Linked DNA regions of Homo sapiens: region 2 is linked to region 1. The links come from fine-mapping of genetic effects on gene expression. A gene starts in region 1. The other region holds a variant in brackets. All regions are shown on one strand. Distances are from middle to middle.

What was found. PIP is the estimated chance that this variant, and not a neighbour inherited with it, causes the effect. A credible set is the group of variants that fine-mapping cannot tell apart.
Region 2: its variant is the best candidate, but not a certain one, in a credible set for the expression of GNG11 in monocytes after LPS (Fairfax 2014, PIP 0.85).

What each region holds. Positions count from the first base shown.
Region 1 is chr7:93,916,913-93,929,725 of GRCh38, forward strand. It overlaps GNG11 (G protein subunit gamma 11), which reads left to right and starts at 4,823. Exons shown (of 2, transcript NM_004126.4): 1 at 4,823-5,321; 2 at 9,179-11,698. The coding sequence starts at 5,226. The coding sequence ends at 9,304. The region is part of intron 1 of LOC105375402 (a long non-coding RNA gene); the gene reads right to left. RefSeq lists an enhancer at 4,425-5,060.
Region 2 is chr7:94,055,577-94,068,389 of GRCh38, forward strand. It overlaps LOC130890646 (a long non-coding RNA gene), which reads left to right. Exons shown (of 4, transcript NR_186703.1): 2 at 5,880-6,049; 3 at 6,193-6,288; 4 at 8,850-12,178. Among named protein-coding and RNA genes, the nearest start is that of BET1, 58 kb to the left of the region's middle. RefSeq lists an enhancer at 4,723-5,922. The variant T/A (reference allele first, on the strand shown) is at 6,819.

The DNA of each region.
Region 1 (12,813 bases):
GTTTGCAGCCCAACAATTCAAAATTAAAACCCTGACTCTTCCACCTTGTCATTGAGAACTTGGACAAATGACGTGAACTTTTTGAATCTGTTTTTTTTTATATATAAAATTAGTGATTAGGCTAGATTATCTGAATACTTATAATCTCTTAGATCAGAAACGGGTACATAGAAAGAAGCCTAACAAATGTCCTCTATTATTATACTTCCCGTGGACATTTTCCCACCACCTGGAATTTGGTCATACTGATCCCTCCACCTGAGATCTCCCTCCACTCCACCCCATTTCAGCCTTTTGAAATCCTACTCTTCTTATGAGACTATCTCTCCCATTCTACCTCAAGAGTATTTTGTGTGTCTCTTAAGTCATTTAACGTTACTTTACTTTTTCTCATTATAATTTCTACGGTTGTTTTAATTTCAGTACTACATTGGAGATTTCCCAAGTCAGAAGCACTGTTCATCTTTGAAAAGTGTCATATCAACTAACAAATTGTCTGGACAATGTAATTGACTTTAAAAGCAGGCAAGAGTGGTGCTTATAAAAGTTTATATTGGATCAAACTTCCTAAATGCCTCAATAATGTGTTTACATGAGGAAAATAGTAAACTAAGTAATGAGAATGATCAGTTATATATGATGGGAGTTAAAGTAATATAGAAACAAAATTGGTAAGAGAAATCATTTATTTTTATTTGTATTTTATTTTATTTTATTTTTTTGAGATGGAGTCTTACTCTCTCGCCCAGGCTGGAGTGCAGTGGTACGATCTTGGCTCACTGCAATCTCTGCCTCCTGGGTTCAAGCAATTTCATGCCACCACACCTGGCTATTTTTTTTTTTTTTTTTTTCAGTAGAGAAGGGATTTCATCATTCTGGCCAGGCTGGTCTCGAACTCTTGACCTCATGTGAGCCTCCTGCCTCAGCCTCCCAAAGTGCTGGGATTACAGGTGAGAGCCACCACTCCCAGCCAGAGAAATCATTTTGATATCCTGAATTATAAGTAGTTGCTAAGATACTCAGAGCATCAGACACAGATCATCCTTTGACTTGGCATTCTCTTCATCTAGAAAAGGAATCTTAGGGCTGGGTGCAGTGGCTCACGCCTGTAATCCCAGCACTTTGGGAGTCCTAGGTGGGAGGATTACCTGAGATCAGGAGTTTGAGACCAGCCTGGCCAACATGGTGAAACCCCGTCTCTACTAAAAAAGAAAAGAAAAAAAGAAAAACAAAATTAGCTGGCTGTGGTGACACACGCCTGTAATCCCAGCTACTCGGGAGGCTGAGGCAGCAGAATCACTTGAACCCGGAAGGCGGAGGTTGCAGTGAGCAGAGATCGCGCCATTGCACTCCAGCCTGGGCAACAAGAGTTAAACTCCTTCCCCTGCCCAAGAAAAAAAAAAAAAAAAGAAAAGGAATCTTAGGTAGGTAGTTACAGGAAACAAATGAGCTCCTGAAAATTGCCTCATGATTGTTTTAACAGATTAAAACAAATATCAAATGAACCAAGAGCGTCTGAAGTGTACTTTCTTTAAAGAAACCATAATTTCAATGGTCAAAACAGTTACTATGCACTTTTTAAATTTATTTATTTATTTATTTATATTTATTTATTTTTTTGTAGAGACCGGGGTCTCGGTATGTTGCCTAGGCTGGTCTCAAACTCCTGAACCTTTGGTCTCAAGTGATCCTCCTGTATCGGCCTCTCAAAGTCACTCTATAAATTTTAGAAGAGCAGACTTTGAAAGGTAACCTAGTTTACTTACACGAAATAAAAAAGCAGAAATAATGTGTTTCTTGCAAAAATCACAAGATAAAATAAGACCAGAATCCTGATCTTTTTTGAGTTCAAGTTAGTATTAGCTCAATTCCAGTTTAACTGCCTTCAATGTTTTATTTTTCTTTATATAGATTTTTAACAACATAACAAATCACAAAAATTGTCAAAACCTTGTTTTTCCTATTTTTGCATACCAAAGTAAAAATTTCATGGTTGTTACTCTTTTATAATTTAAAAGTGAAAATGGTTACTTTTATTTTTATTAACTAATTTCTATAAAACATTTGTGAAACGACAGTGGGCTAATTAATCAAAGTTCATTGCTGGTTGCACCTGTCATTTTTACTAAAGAATGGTTTCTACTCATACTACTTGTAAAATAAATTTTACCGGGGTACTATGTAAAATATAAGTAAAAACCTAACAAAACATTTGGACACAGCTAAACAAATTTTAAAATTTATTTATTCAAAATTTTTGAATATTGCTGATAAACTATTTCTGCAAGTATACATGAGAAATTGCTTAACATGGTTCTTCTCTGGGAGGTAAATTCGGTGTCTAGGCATAGAAGACTACACATCCTTTTGTTTAAAAAAAAATATTCTCATCATTTTACTATTTAAAACCAAACAGGGCCAGGCGCGGTGGCTCACGCCTGTAATCCCAGCACTTTGGGAGGCCGAGGCGGGCGGATCACGAGGTCAGCAGATCGAGACCATCCTGGCTAACACAGCGAAACCCCGTCCCTACTAAAAATACAAAAAAATTAGCTGGGCGTGGTGGTGGGCGCCTGTAGTCCCAGCTACTTGGGAGGCTGAGGCAGGAGAATAACGTGAACCCAGGAGGCGTAGCTTGCAGAGAGCCGAGATCGCGCCACTGCACTCCAGCCTGGGTGACAGAGCAAGACCCCGTCTCAAACAAACAAACAAACAAACAGGAAACCAGCAACAATAAAACCTTTTTCAGAATCCTGTGTGATCATGCAATTTCAACATTTTGCAATTCACTTCAGTTTAATCAATTTACTTAAGATATTAGAATATGAATTATTTAATAACAATAAAAAAGACTAACAAGTATTTTGTTTCTAATACGTCTCATAATACGATGGGAAAAGTTAAAGAACCAATATGGGCTTATAAGTATTTATCCCTCTAAGCAACTAGATGATTTCATGGGAAAGAAACTTCAAAGCCAAAATAATTATATTTTTATGACTTAGAACAAACACACATTAACAAAAAATTAGTCAGGCGTGGTAGCGGGCGCCTGTAGTCCCAGCTCCTCCGGAGGCTCAGGCGGGAGAATGGCGTGAACCCGGGAGGCGGAGCTTGCAGTGAGCGGAGATCGTGCCAGTCACTCCAGCCTGGGCGACAGAGCGAGACTCCGTCTCAAAAAAAAAAAAACAAAAAAACAAAAAAACAAAAAAAAGAACAAAAACACAATAATTTATTTAACCAATTTATTTAACTTAGGTGCTGAACCTATTTAATTTAGGCCACATTCACGTTGATTACTTTCACTAATTTAAGGTATTTTTGACCAACCTTTTAAATTTAAGTAATAGAAAATTTTAAAAATGAATTAGTGCACAAGACAGATATGGACATTTGTCTAGTCTCCCTGCTTATTTACAAGTAAACTTCAGTAGATGCTCTAACTACTCTGAGCTTGGAAAACCCTGGTATTTCAAATATTGAAAGTGAAGCTCTTAAACATTTTCTTTGTGAAAATGATTTATCATATATAGACATACCAACACAATTAGAGACACAACATAGCTTAGCTGATTCACTACTTCCCTGCCTTACTATACATTTTACAAATTAGAAAACCAAAACTAAGAAAAATTAAATGACTTCTTCAGTGATGGCCTGTGGCAGAGCTGCAACTACACGCCAGGAGTATTCATTAAGTGGTTCATTGTTTTTTTCATTCTAATTTATTCATTGAGGTTGAGCGGAGCGTGGTAAGAAACTAGGAACGAACAAAAACTCCTGCTTCCTAAACAGGGAATGGTCATGGGTGTCTTGGGTCAGCTACTCTGAAATATTAAGTTAATATTTCACTTGCCTTTGACTCTGTGAGGCAGGAGGTTATCTCTGGAAAGAAAGAGAAATATCCAACTGCTAGGGAAGGTTTCTTACATTCATGTTTGATTTTTCTTCTACTCTTTTGACCACCATCAACAAGACTTTAGTTACAGTTAAAGGGAAAGTTTTATTGCATGTAAACTTTTTTCACATCGGACACTTTTCCTGGCTTTCCAGAGCAACAGCTAGATAAATAGTGCTTGCCAGAAAGTGGAGAAACTAATACTAAATGAATCCACTGCCTACATCCAGGAAGGTTCAGGAGCCAGGAATTCAAAATCCTTGGTGTCAAGTGTCACCCAAAACTTAGGGTTGGGGAGTGGAGAAAGGCTTTCGGTTAAGAACTCTAAGATTCCTGCTTCTGTCTTCTCTTATATCATCCTTTGATGCACCCCTCTACATAACATTCCCCCGGAAAAATAAAAAAAATACAAACTCTGCTGCTGTTGAGGATGCAGATGATTATTTAATAATAGAAAATGTTCTTGCAACTTGTAAACGATATTCACACCCTGTTGCCCCCTCCTCGCCCAAAATGTATAAACCCATATTAGGCCTCGAACAAGCCGGATGGACACAAATGAGCAGAACACTGGTGGGTATTTCTGGGATTAGGGCTAAGCTTCATTTTCTTTTCAGCCTTTTCTTAAGCGTCCGCATTCTCCACTATGCATTTATTACGTTGGTGCAAAACTAATTGCACCAACCTATATATGTAATTAGAGAAAAGTAATTACTTTTGCAACAACCTATGTATGTAATTAGGGAAAAGCTATATCTAGCATATTTTTAAAACTCTTTGAGAGGTGAAGGGTAGTTATTTCCTGCTGGGTAGTGTACTCCTTTTCCTAGCTTCACAAACAAAACCCGGATGTGACTTGGAAACGGAAAAAAAAAAAGGAGCGGGGGTGCGCGGAGAACACAAAGTAAAACTTCTGCTGTTCCCAGTCCTGCAGCCCCAGCCCAGCCGTCCCCCGCGGGCGTGGCAGGTCCTGAGTCAGGGCCTGTCCGTGGCCAGCATCCCTGCTGGGCGATTGAGCAGCGGGAAGCTGCTTGGACCCAGTCTCAAACTTAACCCTCATCTAGCACCCGGGCAGGCCTCCTGGGTTGCAGGGACTTGAGAAAAGGCAGAGTTCTCAGGTCCTAGGAAGCTGGGGCACGCTGGCGTGACAAGCGTCCCGGAGAAAGCCAAGCCCTCGGGGAGCTGGGGACCGCAGCAGGGCTGCAGTCACATCCTGCGCGGGTGGGCGGCGGGCCAGGCCTTCAGTTGTTTCGGGACGCGCCGAGCTTCGCCGCTCTTCCAGCGGCTCCGCTGCCAGAGCTAGCCCGAGCCCGGTTCTGGGGCGAAAATGCCTGCCCTTCACATCGAAGATTTGCCAGAGAAGGAAAAACTGAAAATGGAAGTTGAGCAGCTTCGCAAAGAAGTGAAGTTGCAGAGACAACAAGTAAGTTGGCTGTTCCGGAATATTTCCTTCTCTGAAATGAAGCAGGGTCCGATTTTTCCTGCTTAGTAACAGTAAAGCAAATAGTTTAGCTTATTTTTCCCCCTTTTTGTAGCTTCTCTTCTCACCACCCTTTGGCAGTGCCTGGGGACTGCCAGCTGATGTGGGGAAATCCTAGGAGGTAGAGGAGGGAGCAAGGATCTGATAAGTAATTTAAGGCCAAATGTCCTAACTTTTAAGATGCCTAGGAAGGGGAAAATAGACAAGAAATCTTGCTTTCCATTAGACAGCTGTTTTTCAAAACTCACTTGTAGGAAAAAAGCGGATAGCTACTTGGTTCTTTGATCTTTTACACTACTAGAAAGGATGATATTTGAAAGAAATTTTCTAAAACCGTATTTTAAAGTCTTACAAGTACATTATTTAATTTTGAATTTCACCAGTGGCCTTCAGTGATATGCAAAGAACAGTCCACCGAAATTTGGGAACAAAATATTAGAATTTCTATATTTATTTGTAAATCTCATCCCTTTATAATTTTCACTTTATGTTTTATTAGTATGCGATTAATACAGTAGTATCTGTACTTATTTATAAATAATTATACATACACTGTGGTGCATATGAAAAATTTTTTTAGTGATCACAATTTTAAAGTTTTAGAGACTATTGATAGAGATTACCATTTCATTGAGAACATATGACCCAGTATTCAATATTCTCCACTGAAACGTCTCGGGAGTTTTATAAGTTTTACTTCAATTTCTTACTGGTCATCAAGACCTTCCTTCAGACACTAATCCCTCTTCCTGTTTTAACTCAATCAGGCATCCTGTAGACTAGGAAAGGTCTTTGAATAGATATTGTTTAAAGATAATTAACCTTTCCTCTTCAGCAAGAAAATTTTGAACTGATCTTATTTATTATGGTTTAGCACTAGAAAAAATTAAGAAAAACAATGGAAATGAAGCGTTATAATATGCTCACTTGCCTTCCTGTTCTAGTTATAATAAATCTGTTAAGGGCAAGAGTCTTCACTGTTGAGTGATGATTAGAAGATGCAGGCATTTTTGTGTTTTACTTTTTACATATTTCTTTTCTCAAATTTAACCTTTCACATCCAAATCCCGGCTCTTCCTAGCTTTTATAATGAGCTGTCCCTTCTATCATGTTAAGGGTTTGTAGCTTTAAAAACACCAACGCGTTTAAAGGGGAAAAAAAGGAAGTTACACTACCCAATCAATAAGCACGCTTCTTGAAACCTTAAGGGACCCATTTTATGGATGGCGAAGTTCCCAGTACAGCAAGTGCTGGCCACTTAGATATGTTCACACAATAAACCTTAGGAGTTACATATTAAACAGAGTTTCATATGCTGAAGTACAGCATTGTCTATGCAAGGTTCTAATATCTTAATATTTGGTATCACTGTGTAGAACTTAGGAAAAAAGACAAGCGTCTTCTACTTACTCAGAGTTTTAAGTTAAGTGATGTGGATGCAACCGACTATGTAAAAATTGACTGTATCATTCATTAGCAGTTTCTCCCTGCTAGCCAGCCTGACCCTTTAGGACACGGCCTGTGGCATCAACTTCCCACCTCCAGAAACCTCAAGTGTATGCCAGAGGGAGAAAAAACTTTGGATATATGTAACCTTAGGAAATACAGAAAGAGGCATCTAAATCTCAACAATAATATTAAGACATTTGATTATACACTTGGAATTATACATTATTATTGCTAGGCAAGCATTGGAATGTTTAGAGATCATTCATCTCCCTCACTTTAAGGATTAAAAAAAACTTGAGTCCCACAAAGGCTAACTAGCTCCACATTTAAGACCACAGAGATAGATAGTGATAGGGCAGGTACTAAAACATTCTTCTTCTCATTCCCAGTCCATTATTCAGTCAATAAATAGTTAACATCTGGGCTACGTGTTCAGTCCTTAACTTAGGCCCAGACAAAACTTGCAAGTTGCATTCTGGCTGTAGTTAAATGTTTATCAAACATGTCCTCTTGATTATGGAAGGAAATGTATCAGAGGAGCAATTACTCACATTTGGAGGTTACAGACCTCTTCTGAAACCTAATGAAAAAACCTTGTAAGAAAAGATTCAATGTAGGGAGCATGTATCTTGCTGAGAAATTAACCTGGGACGACAGACCCTAAATTATGACACGTGCATTATCAACTCTAAAAATTCACTTAAAATGCATGCACTCTGAATGTCAACAAACGAGAGCAAATGTTACCTGAAAGAATTGTATTTGAAAGATTTTATTTTGCCAGATTTTAAGTCACACAACTACATCACCTAGTTTTCAATTTGAGGTCAGAGGCTTCCACACTGATTTGCAGAGGATAATCATTTGGGGTGTGGAAGTAAAATGTTAACATTGCTATTTCTGTTTAGTTTTAAACCTCACCCATTTATAATTTCCAGTTTATGTTTTATAATTTTGCATGATGTATTAACAAAGCAGTGTCTGTACTTATTTGTAGTTAAAAATTATATTCATTTTGGGATACACATGCAAACATGTTTTAGTAGTAACCGTTAAAACAGTTTGAGGTTACTAATTTAGATTACTAATTCAATGGGAACATTTGCCCAGTTTTCATAGGTCTCCATTTAAATTTGCTGGTGCGGCCTGGCGCGGTGTCCCACGCCTGTAATCCCAGCACTTTGGGAGGCCAAGGCGGGCGGATCACGAGGTCAGGAGATCAAGACCATGCTGGCTAACGTGGTGAAACCCCGTCTCTACTAAAAATACAAAAAATTAGCCAGGCGTGGTGGTGGGCGCCTGTAGTCCCAGCTACTTGGGAGGCTGAGGCAGGAGAATGGCTAGAATCCGGGAGGCGGAGCTTGCAGTGAGCCGAGATCCTGCCACTGCACTCCAGCCTGGGCAATAGAGCAAGACTCCATCTCAAAAAGAAATAAATAATTAAATTAAATTAAATTTGCTGGTACTTCTGTAATTTTTACTTTAAATTTCTTACTAGCAATACAGGCCTTCATTAAAACCCTAATTTCTTTTCTTTTGTTTTTATTCTTTTTTTAATTCATTCTTGCAACCTGTCTTTTAAGGATAGATAGACTTTTTGAAGAAACTCTTCTTTTAAGAATAGACTTTTTGAAGACACTATTCAATTTTTTCTCCATCTCAGAAAAAAATTTATTCTCAGATAAGCCTAATAAGTCTCAGATAAGTCTTTTATTATGATCATTGCCCTCATGCAGCAGGAAGAAATTCTGAGGAGCAACACAGAGTGCGATATTTGGACAATTCCAATCTTTCCAGAATCAGGCTTTTTCCAAAGCTTCTATCATTTCGTGAAATTTCAGAACATGGCACACACCCATAAGTGAGAATCGTGGCATTACACACCCCAAAACATTTGGGGATTATCTACTACTGCACCTGCTCACTAGCATGGAAAATTAAAATAAGAGTATATTTCAGTTCCTAAAATATTGTAGACATGGCATAATTGTATTTTAGCAGAGGAAGGAAATCATATGAGACACAATGGAAAAAAACTGCTGGAGATGATTTATTTAATGCAGTGACTTTCAAACATTTTTTAATTTGACCAACGACCAACAGTAAGAAATATATTTTACATAGGTTGCATCATAGGTATAGTAATAGAATAAAAATATTAGAGTGCAGAGCCCAGATTTTATATATGTATTATATATATAATATATACACACACACATGCACATATATATGTAAATGTAAAAAAATGTTTAAAAACTTATTGTATTCAATTATACTTATTTCATTAAGGCGTAGGGACAAAGTTTAAACAACCCTAACCTAATGTATTCTCTTTTTTTTCTATACTTAAGGTGTCTAAATGTTCTGAAGAAATAAAGAACTATATTGAAGAACGTTCTGGAGAGGATCCTCTAGTAAAGGGAATTCCAGAAGACAAGAACCCCTTTAAAGAAAAAGGCAGCTGTGTTATTTCATAAATAACTTGGGAGAAACTGCATCCTAAGTGGAAGAACTAGTTTGTTTTAGTTTTCCCAGATAAAACCAACATGCTTTTTAAGGAAGGAAGAATGAAATTAAAAGGAGACTTTCTTAAGCACCATATAGATAGGGTTATGTATAAAAGCATATGTGCTACTCATCTTTGCTCACTATGCAGTCTTTTTTAAGAGAGCAGAGAGTATCAGATGTACAATTATGGAAATAAGAACATTACTTGAGCATGACACTTCTTTCAGTATATTGCTTGATGCTTCAAATAAAGTTTTGTCTTGGGAAGATGAGTGTTGGTGATTTAAGAAGACACTTTTCATGCATTAACTTTTATATTTCTCCCCGTAATCTTTTGGGTGTGGAGTATGATTGGGTTTGGAATATGATTCAGAAGGTTAGGTGGTTCGACAGATCACATCTCCAAACCCTGCGTCAATGGTTTAGAGTGCTGAGTTCTGACCTCTGGAACGTGTTTGATCTAACCTTAACTATTAAGAAACTGAGCAGGTAGAATTCCTATAACATTGACAGAAGTCAGATTATCTGAGTCAGGAACAAGGCCAAGCCACATCTATGTTAGTACTTCCCTAGTTTATCATCATTTAGATCTTCTTAATAGTGTTCCTGTAGTAGTAGCCTTGAAGAAAATACTGAGTTGGGGTTCAGGAAGAGTGCCCTGCCTCTCTGCCGTGTAGTGGCCAGGCCAGCCCTGGCTTTGAGAGCCAGTACTTATTCCTGCACAGAGCTACATCTCCCATGTGCTCTCCAGGTCTTGGGCATGGCACTACTCCAGTTCTGTGGCATTGGTGCAGACACTTGGACCTCTGCACTCATGCTTGCCAGCATTTTCCAGCAGGCCTGGGCCAAACATGCCTTTTTTTCTTCTCCTCCAAAGGAACCAGTGAATCTTTGCCCACTTTAAAGATTAGTTGGTCTTTTTCTTACTGATTTGTAGGAATTCTTCATATATTCTGGCCATTTATTCGTGTTTGGTGATATGTGTTGCGAATACCTTCTCCCAGTCTGTGGCTTACCTTTTCACAGTGACCTTCCCTTCAGTGGTTTTATCCTGCAGGGCAACACGTCAGAGTATAACTCCTGCTCAAGTTCATAACAAAGGTACCTGAAGCCCAAACCTCACAAAAAGGGACCTTTCTTTCTCACCTTGAGCATTCTCCCGCTTCTTCTCCGTCTTTTGGGTCAAAATTGCTCCAAGTTTGAGCCAAAAGAAAAACGTGGAAAAACCCTTGCTGGTTAGCTCTAGCTCAAATGGACTTAGTCATTAACTTGACCTGCAATTTTCAATGTGGCACCAGAAGCCAATGTTTCTCCTTGACTAGCTCTTTTCTCCCACTTACACATGTAGGTATACCTTACTATCAAGCGAGAGAGGCGCCTGTAACCTGTAGCAGCTTTCTAAAGTATATCAGCATCCTCGTTCTGAAATTCCTTTCCTTTCCCTCTCTGGGAAAGAACAGAATACCCCAGGCTTTTGAAAAATAGTTTACACAGACCAAAAGCAGAAACTATTTCCTTCAGTTTCCTGACACTGTCCAAGTGATGACATCAATTGGCATTACTGAGAGCCCAGGGATAATTTTAGCCCAAAACTACTACTCCTAGGAAGGAGTAGTATGATCTACTACTCTTAGGAAGGATTTAGGAATAGTAAAGGTGTATTTCTTCCAAACAGCATAGAACTATTAGTACTATTAGTCATTTAACATTTAACATGGCATGGGATTTTAGAGCTTTGGTGCCTGTAAAGTTTTACTTCTATTAGCTGTTTCATTTCTTTGCACTTATAAAGTTTTCTTCTGTTGCCTATGAAAGCAAACATTTATTCCGGTTACTGGCAAGGCAGTTTAAATCACCTGCTTCTTTCATGAAAGGCCAAGACAATACATTTATTCCCTAACTTGTTGGGAGTTGCGATTACAAGTCTATATCCTGATTTCTATTAGCACATTCAGCTATCCATTTGTGTACACTCCCAAGTCCTAGCTTTTGCTCTTCATGTCTCTTTCAACCATATGATCAATCAGTTGGACGACTTCTGGTTTTTCCTGAATAAATATCTAATCTTATAGGTGCTTCTATTAAATATAATTCTGTTTCTTTTTCTTACCATTTATCATTATAACCCAGCCAACATGTAGAAGTGCAATAAAAATATTTTAATTTTCAACTGTTCAACTGCTAAAATTATTAGCTTGTAATTAAAAAAGAAAAAATACATCCACTATATATTTAGATATATTGTAAATGTAACCTTTGGTGACTGATAATTTGTTAAGTAGAATTTAAATTATGTATCCAATTTATTCAAAGTGTATAGTTGTGTAATTATTTACTATTTGATTAAAAATAGTTATCATGCATTGTGTAGTGAGACTTAGGTTCTATAAACTCATATAGAATTAGAAAAATCAGGCCGGGCAGGGTGGCTCACGCCTATAATCCCAGCACTTTGGGAAGCTGAGGCAGGCAGATCACGAGGTCAGGAATTTGAGACCACCCTGACCAACATGATGAAACCCCGTCTCTCCTTAAAAATACACAAAAAATTAGCCAGGTGTGGTGGCGCACACATGTAATCCCAGCTACTCAGGAGGCTGAGGCAGGAGAATCACTTGAACCCTGGAGGCGGAGGTTGCAGTTAGCAGAGATCACGCCACTGCACTCCAGCCTGGGTGACAGAGTGAAACTCCATCTCAAAAAAAAAAAAAAAAGAAGAAAGAAAAATTGGGCTTTTCTATTTCTAGGCAGAAGCTACCTTAAAGCTCACCCACACTTGGTATTGTGAGACCAAAATTTTTTGTATGCTAGATGCAAATTAATATCTCACCATTGTCTAAATTTGCATTTCTTTGATTTCCAATGATTTTTAGTCAGTTTTCGTGTGTGTCAATTTTCTCTTTTGAAGATGCCTGTTCTCCTCCTTTGCTGGCAACCACTAATTTGTTCTCCATCTCTATAATTAGGTTACGACTGCTGCATAAATTAAATCATACAGTAGCTATCCTTTTGAGGTTGGCTATTATCATTCAGTATAATTTCTTTGAGGTTCATCCAAGTTGGTTGTGTGTATCAATAGTTTATTCCTTTTTATTGCTGAGTAGTATTTTATGCTACAGAGGTGCCACAGTTTACCAATTTATCCATCAAAGAATGTCTGGGTTGTTTTCAGTTCTCTGCTAATGCAAGTAGAGGTGCTATGAACATTCATGTACAGATTTTTGTATGAAGATAAGTCTTTGCTCATCCGGAATAAATTTTTAGGAATACATTTGCTAGGTTCCATGGTAAATTTATATTTACTTTTTAAAAAAACTACCAACCTGTTTTCCACAGTGATTGTACCATTTTACATTCCCATAAGCAATGTATGAGCAACTCAGTTTCTCTACATCTTCATCAATATTTGGTGTTATCACTATTTTTCATTTTAGCTATTGTGGATAGTAATATCTCATTATGGTTTTAATTTTATCTC
Region 2 (12,813 bases), 140 kb after region 1:
CGATACTATGAAGAAACTGCATCAACTAATGGGCAAAATAACCAGCTAGCATCATGACAGGATCAAATTCACAAATAACAATATTATCCCCAAATGTAAACAGGCTAAATGCCACATGCAGACTGGCAAATTTGATAGACTCAAGACCCATTGGTGTGCTGTATTCAGGAGACCCATCTAACATGCAAAGACACACATAGGCTCAAAATAAAGGGATGGAGGAAGATTTACCAAGCAAATGGAAAGCAAAGAAAAGCAGGGGTTCCAATCTTAGTCTCTGATAAAAAAGACTTTAAGCCAACAAAGATCAAGAAAAGACAAATAAGGGCATTACATAATGGTAAAGGGATCAATGCAACAAGAAGAGCTAACTATCCTAAATATATATATGCACCCAATACAGGAGTGCCATTTATGGCCACAGAGCTGGATCTACTCTCTGAGGAAAAGAGGAGAAAAAAGTAGATGAAGAAAAGTTGAGGACTCAGAAGCAATCTCCCTGAAGTAATTTAACAACTAGAAGCTTAACAGAAGAAGAAGGGTCACAGACAAATGGGCAAAACATGCTGAGTCATGTAACATAAAAACTCAGAGAGGTGTGGGATCTTGGCAACTCACAGAAGAAAGGAAAGAGTGGTCAACTAAGGAGACCAGGAAGAAATAATCATCAACCAAGATTTAAAGAAAAAAAAAAAAAGAAAACTCCACAGAGTTTCAGCAAGCTGAACACATTGGCTTTGGCAAGTGCCCTTGATGACACTGATAATAGTTATTGTAGTGAAATGGTAATGATAACGGCCAAAAACCTGGTTGAAATAAGCTGAGAAAAATAGCAAATACACCCTTCACAGGAGTTTTCAGTGAAGGAAGCAGAGAAATAAGGTGATAGCTAACAGAGATGTTCTTCAAAATCAGTAATATTCAGTGAGCTTGAATATACTTCAAAAACAAAAAGACTCCTAGAAATGTCCTAGTGATATCACCCTAACTCTGTATCAGCTATCCAATGCTGCATAACAAATTACTCTAAAACTAACTTGTATAAAACAAGCATTTATTATGCTATTAGATTTTCAGAAATTTAGATGGGCACAGTGAGGAGAATGTGTCTACACTCTAGAGTAGGTATTGGCAAACGTGTACAGGCCCAGATAGCAAATATTCTTAGGCTTTGCAGGGCCAATGGTCACTGTCAAATTATTCAAATAGTCGATTATAGCACACTGCCATAGACCATGCATACAAGAAAAGAGCATGGCTGTGTTCCAATAAAACTTTATTTACAAAAATAGGCAGTGAACCAGATTTGGCCTGCAGGCTGCAGTTTGCAAACTCCAGCTGGAGTTGCTGGAATGTCTGAGGCCTCATCTGGAAGACGTGAACACTGGGGAGACATGACAGCTAGAGGCTGGAATTCTGCAGCTCCTCAGGTATTTCTTTCTATTTCAATGGGATCTCTCCACATGATCACTCATGCATAGCAGCTTCGAGTTAGTCACCCTTTTAAAATGGCAGCTGAGGTCTTGAAAGTGAATTACCCAAGAGGAAATGACAAAATCTTCATGGCCTTTTGCAACTTACGTTTTGAAATCATTTGGCATCACACATACCATATTCTATTTGTTGAAATCATCACAAATGTCCACCCAGGTGCAAGGGGAGGGACAGGAAGAAAAGTTTGCCTCTTTCTTGTGGGGAATTGTTAAACAATTTATGGACATGTTCTAAAGCTACCATACTCTCTAAGAAATGAGCAAAGAGTCAAGAGACCATTTGTTGCAATAAGGGATTTTTAAGTTTTATAAGAATTTGAGTGATTCCAAAAGTTTGGTTGAAAAAGAAAATAGTAGTCACACAATAATTTTTAAAAGTGTTTTGGGATGGTGCTGAAGAGAGAGAATGGCTCCTTATAAAATTCAATTATGACTGTGCTTAGTTGCATTCAGACTGTTTTACTAAAAAGAAGAAACATATTTGGTATTTTGTGTTTTTGGTTTGTCTGATGAACATAAAAATGATTATCTGATTCTTAGAAATACTGTATAAATGTCTTTGAGCATCTAGGTATGCTGAAGAATGGCCCCCAAAAATGTTCATATACCAGAACCTGTGGATGTTATGTTAGTCTGGGTTCTCCAGGAAACAAGAACAAAGAGGAGATACAATCCGCCGCCCCCCTGCCACCCCTCCACCCCCCGCCACACATACACCACATATAGAAAGAGATTTTTTTTAGAAGGAATTGGTTTACACAGTTATGGAGCCATGGAGCCCTGCACTCTATATTTGGCAAGCTAGAAAGCTAGGAATGCTGATGGTATTGTTCCAGTCCAAATGCAATGGCCTGAGAGAGGAGAGTCAATGGTGTAAGTTCCAATCTGAGTCTGAAGGGAGGAAAAGACCAATGTCCCAGCTTGAAGACAGTCAGGCAAAGAGATTGAATTCTCCCTTACTGCACCTTTTATTCTATTCAGGCTCTCGAGGGATTGGTTGAGACCCACTCACACCGGAGAGGGCAGTCTGCTTTACTTGGTCTACCGATTCATATGTTATTCTCATCTTGAAAAACCCTCACCGACATACCCAGGATAATGTTTAGCCAGATATCTTGGCAATCCATGGCCCAGTCAAGTTAACACAAAAACTAACCATTACAATTGCCTTATATGGCAAAAGAGACTTTGAAGGTGTGCCTAAGTTAAGGATCTTGAGACTGGGATGTTAGCCTGAATTAGCCAGGTGGGCCCTACAAGTAATCACAAGTTTCCTTAAAAGATGGAGGCAGAAGAAGATTTCACCACAGAAGAGGAAGGAGGGGATGTGACTAAAAAAAGCAAGAGGTTGGAGTAATGTAAGGATAGGGTCATAAGTCAAGGATTGTGGGTGGCCCCAGAAGCCAGAAAAGCCGAGGAAAGGATTCACCCCTCAGAGTCTCCAGACCCGCCTGTACCTTCATTTTAGCCTAGTGCAACTGATTTCAGACTTCTGGCCTCTGGAAATGTAAGAAAATAAATCTGTGTTTGTTATGCCAAGTTGGATGTAATTTGTTACAGCAGCCACAGGAAACTGATGCAGCCTCCTATTAGGAGGTTCATGGGACACATGAAGGTCATGCAGTTGTTTGCACATGACAGAAGTTGCATTGACTTAAGAGTTTGCCACAATTTTATGATGGTTAAAATGAAACCATCAATAGAGAGTTTGCGTGTAATAATTGCTCAATAAATATTAGTTAACTAAGATATATATTAAACAATAAAACAGTGGTGAAAACAGAAGATTTAACAAGAAGGAAAAGGCTTAAAGAAGTAGGGCTGAAATAGAAAAGTCCCAAGGGAACAGAGAATGGAATCTCTTCAGGGAGACTAAGGAATGTATCTCAAGGTCCACTGAAGGTAGGAAGGAGAAAATGTCTTCTCTCAGCACTTGAGTCAAGCCCCCATCACCAGAAGGCAGGATAAGGTTTGGCATTCATTCATTCAACCTTGAAGGCCCACCATATCCCAAGCACGTGCTACTCCTGGATACACATGAACAAGCAATGGGCTGCCTCCATCCTCCAGTGCACAGTGAAGTAGAGTTGGTCCCAGCAAGTACACATGGAGGGCCAAGTCCTCTAAGGCGTCCTCACTAATTGAAAATTATTTCCATTTCTTTTAAAATAAGTGTATGTTAGATGTCAAACTCCTAACTTCAATGCTTTAAAGATATTTTTACATGGGAAGCTAATAAAAACCTAAAAACCAAAGGAGAAAATATTCAGGCTCATACTACTTAGTATTCACTTTACTGAATTTTTGTTTACATCACATCTGCACCAACTGTCTTCTGGAAGCAGTATAGCAGAATGCTCAAGAGCATGGAGTTTAGAGCAGAAATACCTGGATTTGAATCCTAGATTTGCCATAAATTGTATTTGTGACTTTGGGCAAAAATTACTAAATCTCTGTATGCCGCAGCTCTCTCATCTACAAAACGGAGATGATAATAGTATTTGCCCCATCAAGTTTTCATGAAAATTGGATGAGTTAATAATTGTTAAGCACTAACACTGTCAGCCCATAGTAAGGGCTATATAAGTGTGTGTTGAGTAAAAGTATTAAAAACTTCTTTAAGACCCGGGAGTTCTTAAGAAAGCACATTCATACTCTGTAAATTGAGTAACTTTTTCAGGTGACAACATTTTCCTGCATGGTATTTTCCTTGCTCACTTTCCAAGGGTCCCCATGACGAATTTCCACCTACCAGTCAACAAAAGCAGCCAGAGCTCCATCAGTGAAAGCCCAGTGAACCCATATGTTGCAAATGAGTGTCAGTAATGACAACAGCAGCAAGGGTTTCACAATCTGTGCGTGAGAAGAAAGTTCACAAATGCAATCGGAAATGAGGTACTCCTCCTTCCACTTCTAAATCACTTCAAACCCTTTCAGACTAAAATAAGTACTAGGGATGTGATCCACAGCTATCACCTCGGGGTGGAGAAGTGAAAAACTTACTAGCTTTGCCAGTTTGACTGTCAGAGAGAGCTGCATTCAAATTCTGACCCCAATCCTTGCTATCTACGTAACAGACAAGTTAATTAAACTTTCTTAATCTGACAGGGAAAACGTTGCCACTTTGGCTGGTTTTAAGTATATAATTTAGCAAATCATACTTATCTTTGACTAAGTTGCAGACTGTAGGTTGGGTATTTAGAAATTAGAGCACCTACGGATCAGATACGCCCATTTATATTTTTAGTGGGGAAAGACATGCAGTGGGATCCCAAGCCTGTCTTTTGTGAGCCTTTATTGACTAAGCTTTCTGCCTTTTCCTTTCTAAAACCTTTTAGAAATTAAGAACATCCAGGCACTTCCTTTGGCAAGTCTGACACATACACAAGGGAGAGGACATAAATAATTTCCATACTCTTCAATGAAAGTGAATGTGTAACATATAAAACAATGGGCCAGGTGCGGTGGCTCACGCCTGTAATCACAGCACTTTGGGAAGCCGAAATGGGTGGATCACGAGGTTAGGAGTTTGAGAGCAGCCTGGCCAGCATAGTGAAACCCCGTCTCTACTAAAAATACAAAAATTAGCCGGGCAGGATGGTGGGCGCCTGTAATCCCAGCAACTCAGGAGGCTGAGGCAGGAGAATTGCTTGAACCTGGGAGATGGAGGTTGCAGTGTGCTGGGACTGCGCCACTGCACTCCAGCCTGGGTGACAGAGCAAGACTCCATCTCGGGGGTAGCGGGGAGAGGGGAAAGAATGGTGGCTAGTCAAACAGTCCTTTCCAGTAACAAGGTCTCAGGCACCCATCTCAGAAGATTTATTACATGCTGCCCCCACCATTGACCCCAAAGGAGACTGACTCTGCAAACAGCTCAAATCATAGTCATCCTCTTCATTTCCTGTGTGTCCCTCCCACTCCTCTCACTAACACGTAATACCATAGCCACATCAGTCAGTGGTTAGGATGCTGGGTTAATTTTACTCCCAAGGAAAGTGACGCCTGAGAGAAAGAGCCATTTGTTTGTCTTTTTAATTTCAGCTTCTTCCTAAATAAGACAGCCTTTTAGAAAGACTTTCACAGTGTCAGGTTAGTTACCTAAATCTTAGGTAACTTTAGGTTAGTTACCTAAAGTCACTCTGTGACTTCATCCTGATATAAAGGAACAAGGAAGAGAGTCGGATTAGGCTAACTCACTATGGTACATCTTATTTTTTATTTAGTTTATATATTTTGTGTTTTTAGATTAATTTTGCGGGTAGAGTGGGGCATAACTCAACATATTTTTTTCCTCACAAGCTGGATTAATTATTTTAGTAACATGAGCTGTATTAAAGGGGTCATAGAAGTCAGGTTAGGGCAAGCACTGTTATTTATGTTTTACAGATGGGGTAACACATAGAAAAGGCACGGAGAAGTTAAGTGATTTGCCTGTGGTCACAAAGCCTGTTAGCAGCAAACCCAGAACAAGAACCTAAGATTTATGACCGCCAGTTCCAGCTGTTTTTCTTCGTCATGTATCCTCAGCAATCAACATAATCAAAATCTGTTTGGAGGTAACTGGGTACAACAAAATAAATTATTGTTCCTTTTGTTGGGTGAATTCAGTTTGACCTGGATATTAAATTTGCACAAGTCTCACTGTCTCATTTAGTTATGTCTGCTCTTTTATTTTTTAAACTATGCTTATGACTTTCAGACTACTGATTTGTATAAAGGAAGATAACACCGAACAACCAAACAGGAAGTAATCCAGCGAATCTGGAACAGCGGTGGAATTTAGAAGCAAGGCCAGGTAAGCACTTCAAATATGCGAAAAGAAAATGAGAGAGCTGAAGGGACACCAAGCAATTTGATTTGCTCTTGGTTTACTCTGGAGGAAAAGGAATCCTTCTGAATTCTGAATTCCCAGAGCCAAGCCACTATATTCTTCTATTTCTTCTGTGTGTCTTCCAGGGAAAGTGTGTCCTTGTCAGCACCACAATGACACTTTCCATCCTGTGACAGAAACTAAGTCTTGAAAGACAACATTGTTACACTGTTTGGGGAGATCACGCCTAGTGGTTGTTTTGTTTTGAAGTGAGTGGGGATGGTGAGGAGGGGTTTAGTGAAGGAGTAAATGTGAATGATAATGTCATAAATTCCCCTATGATTCTGATTATGAGAACTCTCCTCAGAGAATCTCAGTTCCGTAGGGAACTTTGTCCAGGATCTCCCAATTCTTTTGAGACCTCATCCAAAAATGGTGACTTGGATAAAGAGAACTCAGGAACTGCATGCCACTCTTCATCTAACTCTGCATGCAGCTATGTTCACATTCTGCTA[T/A]CGCTGGCTGATGTTCAAAAACTCAGCCCAATGATAAGGGTTTTAAAAGTGTATTATTTTCACTATTGATATAGATCTTGTGGAATAATCATTTCATAATGAGCCAGATCTTAACTAGTAGCAGACTACTCTAGTGTCTGCTACTAATCAGACACACTCTAGTTTGTGGTTGGTGAAGCCAGAGAGTGATATCATTTCCTAAGAAACAGGCAAGGAGAGAGAAAGCAATTGAAGGGTGAAGAGCAGAGAACTATGAAGATGATTCAGGAAGAGGCACATGGAGACTAGAGGTAAAACAGAAGTTCTGGGCAGTGAACGAAGACATCTAATACAAGGAAAAGGGGGCCAGGGACTGCGGAGGAAGGAGTAGTTTAGATTTGATCTTATTTGCACCCACAGACCAGTTGCTAAGGGTCCAACTTTCTCAGGGATTAGATTTAACAGAGATAGAAAGTTAGTTTTCGAAGAGAAATCTTATTTATTAGCTAAAGTATGTCCAGTTTAATTATGTAATGAAGATGAGTATTTGTCACTCATTTATTTGAGTATATATTTTATAGATAACAATGTACCAGAGTGTAATAGAAAGTACCTTACAGTATAACTGTAGTGATTTGAATGGCTTGTCTGAGAAGGATGTGGAAAAAGGTCCCATATCTCTCAATATTAGTACCCAAGTCAGCCTAAAAAGAAACAAAACATTGTAAATATCTTGGTTCCTAGTAACAGAAGAGATTTTAAACACAGAGTCACCTAACTGAGTGGAATATTTTTAATTTAGTATCAGCACCCTTTCCTAAAGATGCTATAAATTAAGAACTCTCTGATTTTTTTTAAGCCATAAGTGTTAAAGAGTAATCTATTACAAATCAAGTTCAGTCCCACTCTTGATAACATTGTGTTTTTAGACTAATTTTGCAGGTAGAGTGGGGCATAACTCACCATAGTTTTTTCCTTACAAGCTGTATTAATTATTTTAAAAATAGCAAACATCATGAAAAATAGCCCAGCCAAATACTCATTTCTTTGCTTAATGTCTCATTGCTTGGCAATTTTCTTCACTGTCATTTTCAATGGAAAAATACCTGAAATTCATCTACTGAAATTCAACTGAACGGAGTGGTTTAAAAAGAATCAATAGACATGCTAATAATAAGGAAAGCATTCAAATGCAATATAGCATATGTTTCTAATTACCACTTCACAAGTCCCAGTTACAAATTAAGTCTCTTTTATTTCAATTAACAGTCTAATGGTGCTTCAGAGAGATAAAGAATGTTTTAAAAAGAAACCAAACCTCTGATGAAGAGCACCCAATTTTCTCTCCAAGGAAACATGATGAAGGTTTTAAGCTATGAGAAAAGTCTGGGATAGGTGATTTGGGAACTGTATTGTCCATCACAGCTAAGAGATGTAGATGATGTTTTTGGTTTTTGGTTTTTGTGCTCCCCTTCCTGGGACCTTCTCAGCCATTCTACTGCCCACTTCTCTTCTGATATCCTATCATGGGAGAGAAGTCACCCAGCTGGCCATGCATCTATACAACAAATATTTACTAAGCACTTGCTTTGTACCAGCATTTAAGTACTTGGTCATGAGGATTCAGTGGTATATAAGATCTAGTCCCTTCTCTCAGAAAGGTTGTTGTTTAGTGGGATAGACAGACATATAAGCTAATAGTTCTAGTGTAATGTGTCTATAACAATAACAGAATGAAAACATCTATAGTAAAGATTGATAAGTTAATTTACTCTAATGTGTTACGTCATTTTACCCAGAAGTTTTTAAATGAACAGAAGAATATATATACATATATTCTCTTTCTTTCTCTCTGTGTCATTTCTATGGGTGAAATTTCTGGTATTTGTGATTAGGATGATGAGATATCTGATACCCATAGAGGTGACCACAAACTCTGTCCATAAAGCTGAGCTTGTTATAAATTTTAATTTCAACTCAGGGCTGGATAAATTCATAGAATGTTAAGGGTTCAAGGAATTTCACAGTGTATCTTATTGATTCATTTTACAGATGAGGACCCTAAGACCTAGAGAAACTAAGTCATTTGCTCAAGAAGACAAAGGTAATCATCAGAAATCAACATGAGATTTCAGCTCTCCTGATCCTTAGTACAACATGTGAAAGAAGATATGTTGTCTTTACTCACAGTGGAGGCATTTTTCTAGCTGTGTTTGATTTGGCTTCCCTATAGATTCAGGACCCATAACTCTTGTTCTCACTCATCTGCTATGCTGCTGATAAGGACTTTCAGGTCAACAGCTGTAACTGCTAAATGAAGTTAATACTCTGGAAAAAAAAAAAAAAAAAAAACCAGAAGGAACAGAGACCAAAAGATTGAAAGCCATTTGGAAATTTCTTGAGTGGTGTCTGGCAGGTCTTTTATGAAGATTATCATAAACCAGGAAAAAAAAAAAAAACGCCTGCTGACTGTGTTATCTGTAGTGCCTATTGCCTATTTTGGCTGATTCATTGATGGTGTAACAGATAACAGAATGAAAGGAAATGGTTTGGTTTCTATAAAGGAAAAAGAATGGTTTGTATAAGGAAACCATTAGTTTCCTGAGATTGCTATACCAAATTATCAAAACTTGGTGTCTTAAAACAATAGAAATTTTTTCTCCCACAGTTCTGGAGGCCAGAAACTCAAAATCAGTATTTGGCGGCTGAAATCAAGGTGTTGGCAGCACCCTCTGGAGGCTCTCGGACAGAATCTGTCCCTTGTGTCTAACAGATTCTGCTGGCTGCTGGCATTCCTTGACTTGTGGTCGTATCATTCCCATCTCCTCCTCCATAGTCATAACGCTTTCTCCTCTTCTCTGGCATTTGCATCCCTTTTATAAGACACGTATGACTGCATTTAGGGCTCACCAGGATAATGCAGGATAATCTTCCTATTTCAGGATCCTTTGCCACATCTTCAAAGTCCTTTTTGGCCAATAAAGTAATATTCACAGGCTCCAGGTTTTAGGATGTGGGTAGTGGTGTTGGGGTGGGGGGCAGATTTGGGGGTGAACAACCAGCCTACTACTGGTGGGTGACTGGTTATCCATCATTCTTAAGTCAGAAATGATGACCCAAAATCTCTTTTTGCTTTTGCTTCACTCATTTTGCATTTAATTACTAGGCTCTGCTTCTTCAGACACTTTTATTACAGTTTAGTTTTTGCTACATCCCTCAAAAATGTCTTATTATTTTCACGGCCTGTCATTTAGTTATGTTTTCTTCTAAGTGTTTGGCTGTCTTGGTCAGTGCTCTAAAGGAATTAAAATCACTTGGTCAGGGCTCTGAAGTAATTGGTCAGTGCTCTGAAGTAATTAAAATCACTGTGAAGCTGAATGAAAAATCAGAAGAAGAATCAAGAGACCTATGTTTTGCTTGTTAGGAGAACTGTGTATCCTTTATGTCTATTTTTGGAGTTGGTGGTAATTTCTGGTCAAGGAATCAAATGTTCTTATTCCTAACCATATAGTCAGATAAGATGGCTAAGGTGCTTTCATAATCACCATTGATTCACTGTCAGATGGGCCCGTGCTCTGTGACAACTTTTCAATATTATAGACTTTACCAAATAAAAAGGTATCTCCTCATTCTGTGCACAGAAAAAGAAAATGATGGATGAGTATATTAGCCAGAACCCTGTCGCAGAAAAATAAGCATGAGTGTGCCCTTTCATGCCTCCTGAGAACTCCTGTGCTAGACAGAGCCTGTTCAAGATGTCTTTTCTGACTTTCTGATTCCAGTTGACATCTAGGCATATAAGGCAACTTTGTGATGGGGCCAGAGAGCACCACACATTGTTGTGTATGAAATACTCTATTCAGCAAACAAGCCGTGCAGCAACAAGACCTAGTGTGGTCAAGGATGGTGGACTAAAAACCACTATGAAAGCAGAGATGTAGCCACCTCTGAGACTGGTTTTCTAAGCAGGATGACTTGGTTCCATCCCTACAGGCATCGTCTGGTCCAGTTCAGCACAGAGCTAGCTGCAAGTGACAACCTAAGAGAAAAGTCAGCGAGAACAAAGATCCATCTCTTCGTTGACTGCCTTAATCCCTAGAGCTGTGTTCTTCAATTTGTTACTATTTGCTACAATTTTTCTGCCTAACAAGCAAGTTCTATCCTGCCTAGGAGAGAAACTTTTAGTAAATTCATCTTCATTCACTACTATTCAGCTCATGCTGTAAAAACTTAGATAATGCTGTCTGAAATACTTAACTCCTGGTCAAATGCAGCTGCTATTTCATTCAGTATAATCAAAGAATAGCCAAGGACTTTAGTTAATATTTCTTCAGATGATAGAGAATAAACAAATTGTTTTGGATATATCTACCATGCCCTCCAAACATGATTGTTGATATCTTTTCTATATAAATTACTTTCCTACATAAATGGTACTTAGCTTTTCCTTGAAAGATATGCTCTTCTCTCCAGCTCAAAGATAACCCTCTTTCCCTCAAATTATAAGTAATTTATATTTAATAATCTTTCATACGAATTTTTAAAATTACAAATGGTAAGGTACCACTATTTTTTATTTTGTAACAGCACAAACCATCAAATCAGAAAAAAAGAAAGGTTGAGTATGATCTCTGAAAAATGAATTCTAGTAGCATGTATAGCAAAAATCATCTTAGAATGAATAGAAGCCCTGAATAACTCAATGACCACCAGGCTTGTCTGCATCCACGTTCTACTTGGTTAACTGTTAAATAATATCTAACTTGTTGCATTGTAAAAACAACATGTGTCTGTAAACTGAAAAATAGATGTTATTATCCACCTGGTTTAGTCATAATGGAGAAATGTCCTTCAGTTGCATGATGCTCTTCCTATGAATGAGGAAACCAGATCAACATTTCCATTCAAGTTCTAGCTTGCCTATAACATTTCTTAGCTCCTTTTGCAAACCAAAAGTGGCAGCAGTTGTAACTGAATTAGTCTAACTGCTCAGACACATGCATTTCTGTTTGGTTGCTCTGGTCTCTTCTTGAAGGCCAAGTGCTGTGATCATTTATCATCATCAGAATTGGCTGCCATAACTCAGTGTTCCCGGGACCTGCAGTGGGCAGAGCACCAGCACAACCCGTAGAAAGCAGCTCCAAGATCAGCACCCTCTCATAAACCTACCGAGCCAGGAGCATCTTCCAGGCCCTCCACTCTCAGGAGTTTCAAGGAGAAAACAAAATGCTGAGGACTGGGAATGAGAAGCTTCAACCTTGCACAATCTCTACATTTTGCTTTACTCCCAAGAGGGACGAATGAAGAATGTTGTTATTGATGCTATGACCACTTCTCTCCCATATTGTGCCCAGTAAACATGGTCTTACTCATTATTGAAATACTAGCATTCTTCTATAATGGTTCGTACACAGCTGCTGCCCAGAGCACTGAATAACACATACTACCAGGTGTCAAACCCAGATTTCCCCAGTCTCTCCTTAATTTCCAGCAATAAAAAGATTAGCCTGGCACAGCAGGTCTTCAGACCCTTTCTGATTTTGAATAGTGATTTGAACACCTCTCCTAGCTGTGTCCCCTTTGGGTTTAAGAATAAGATAGAAGATATATTGCTTTCCATTTTAAAATGTTTAACTTCTATTCAAGAATAAATATTGATGAAGGGCATCTAGGTACTAGTGATTTTTCCTGATGTCCATTTTGTGAACTTCACAGAAGACTTTGATTTCACCTTAAACCAAAGAAAACGTTCACAGATATCTTATAAATCTACTATTTTTCATGATTATAATAACCTGTCATCATGACAAGCCATGTTCATTAACAAAAGAAATCATAGGGGCAGCTTCTATTGGGCACTTAACTCCTTCATCCATGAAATTATACTTTATGTGAATTTATTTTTGGAAAGTTCAGGTAGTTTAAATTTTAAATATATAGACTAGAAAGAAATTGGGACCTTAAAAACTATTTTACAGGAAAAATGTTTCTGCCTGTCCTCATATTTCCTTCTTTT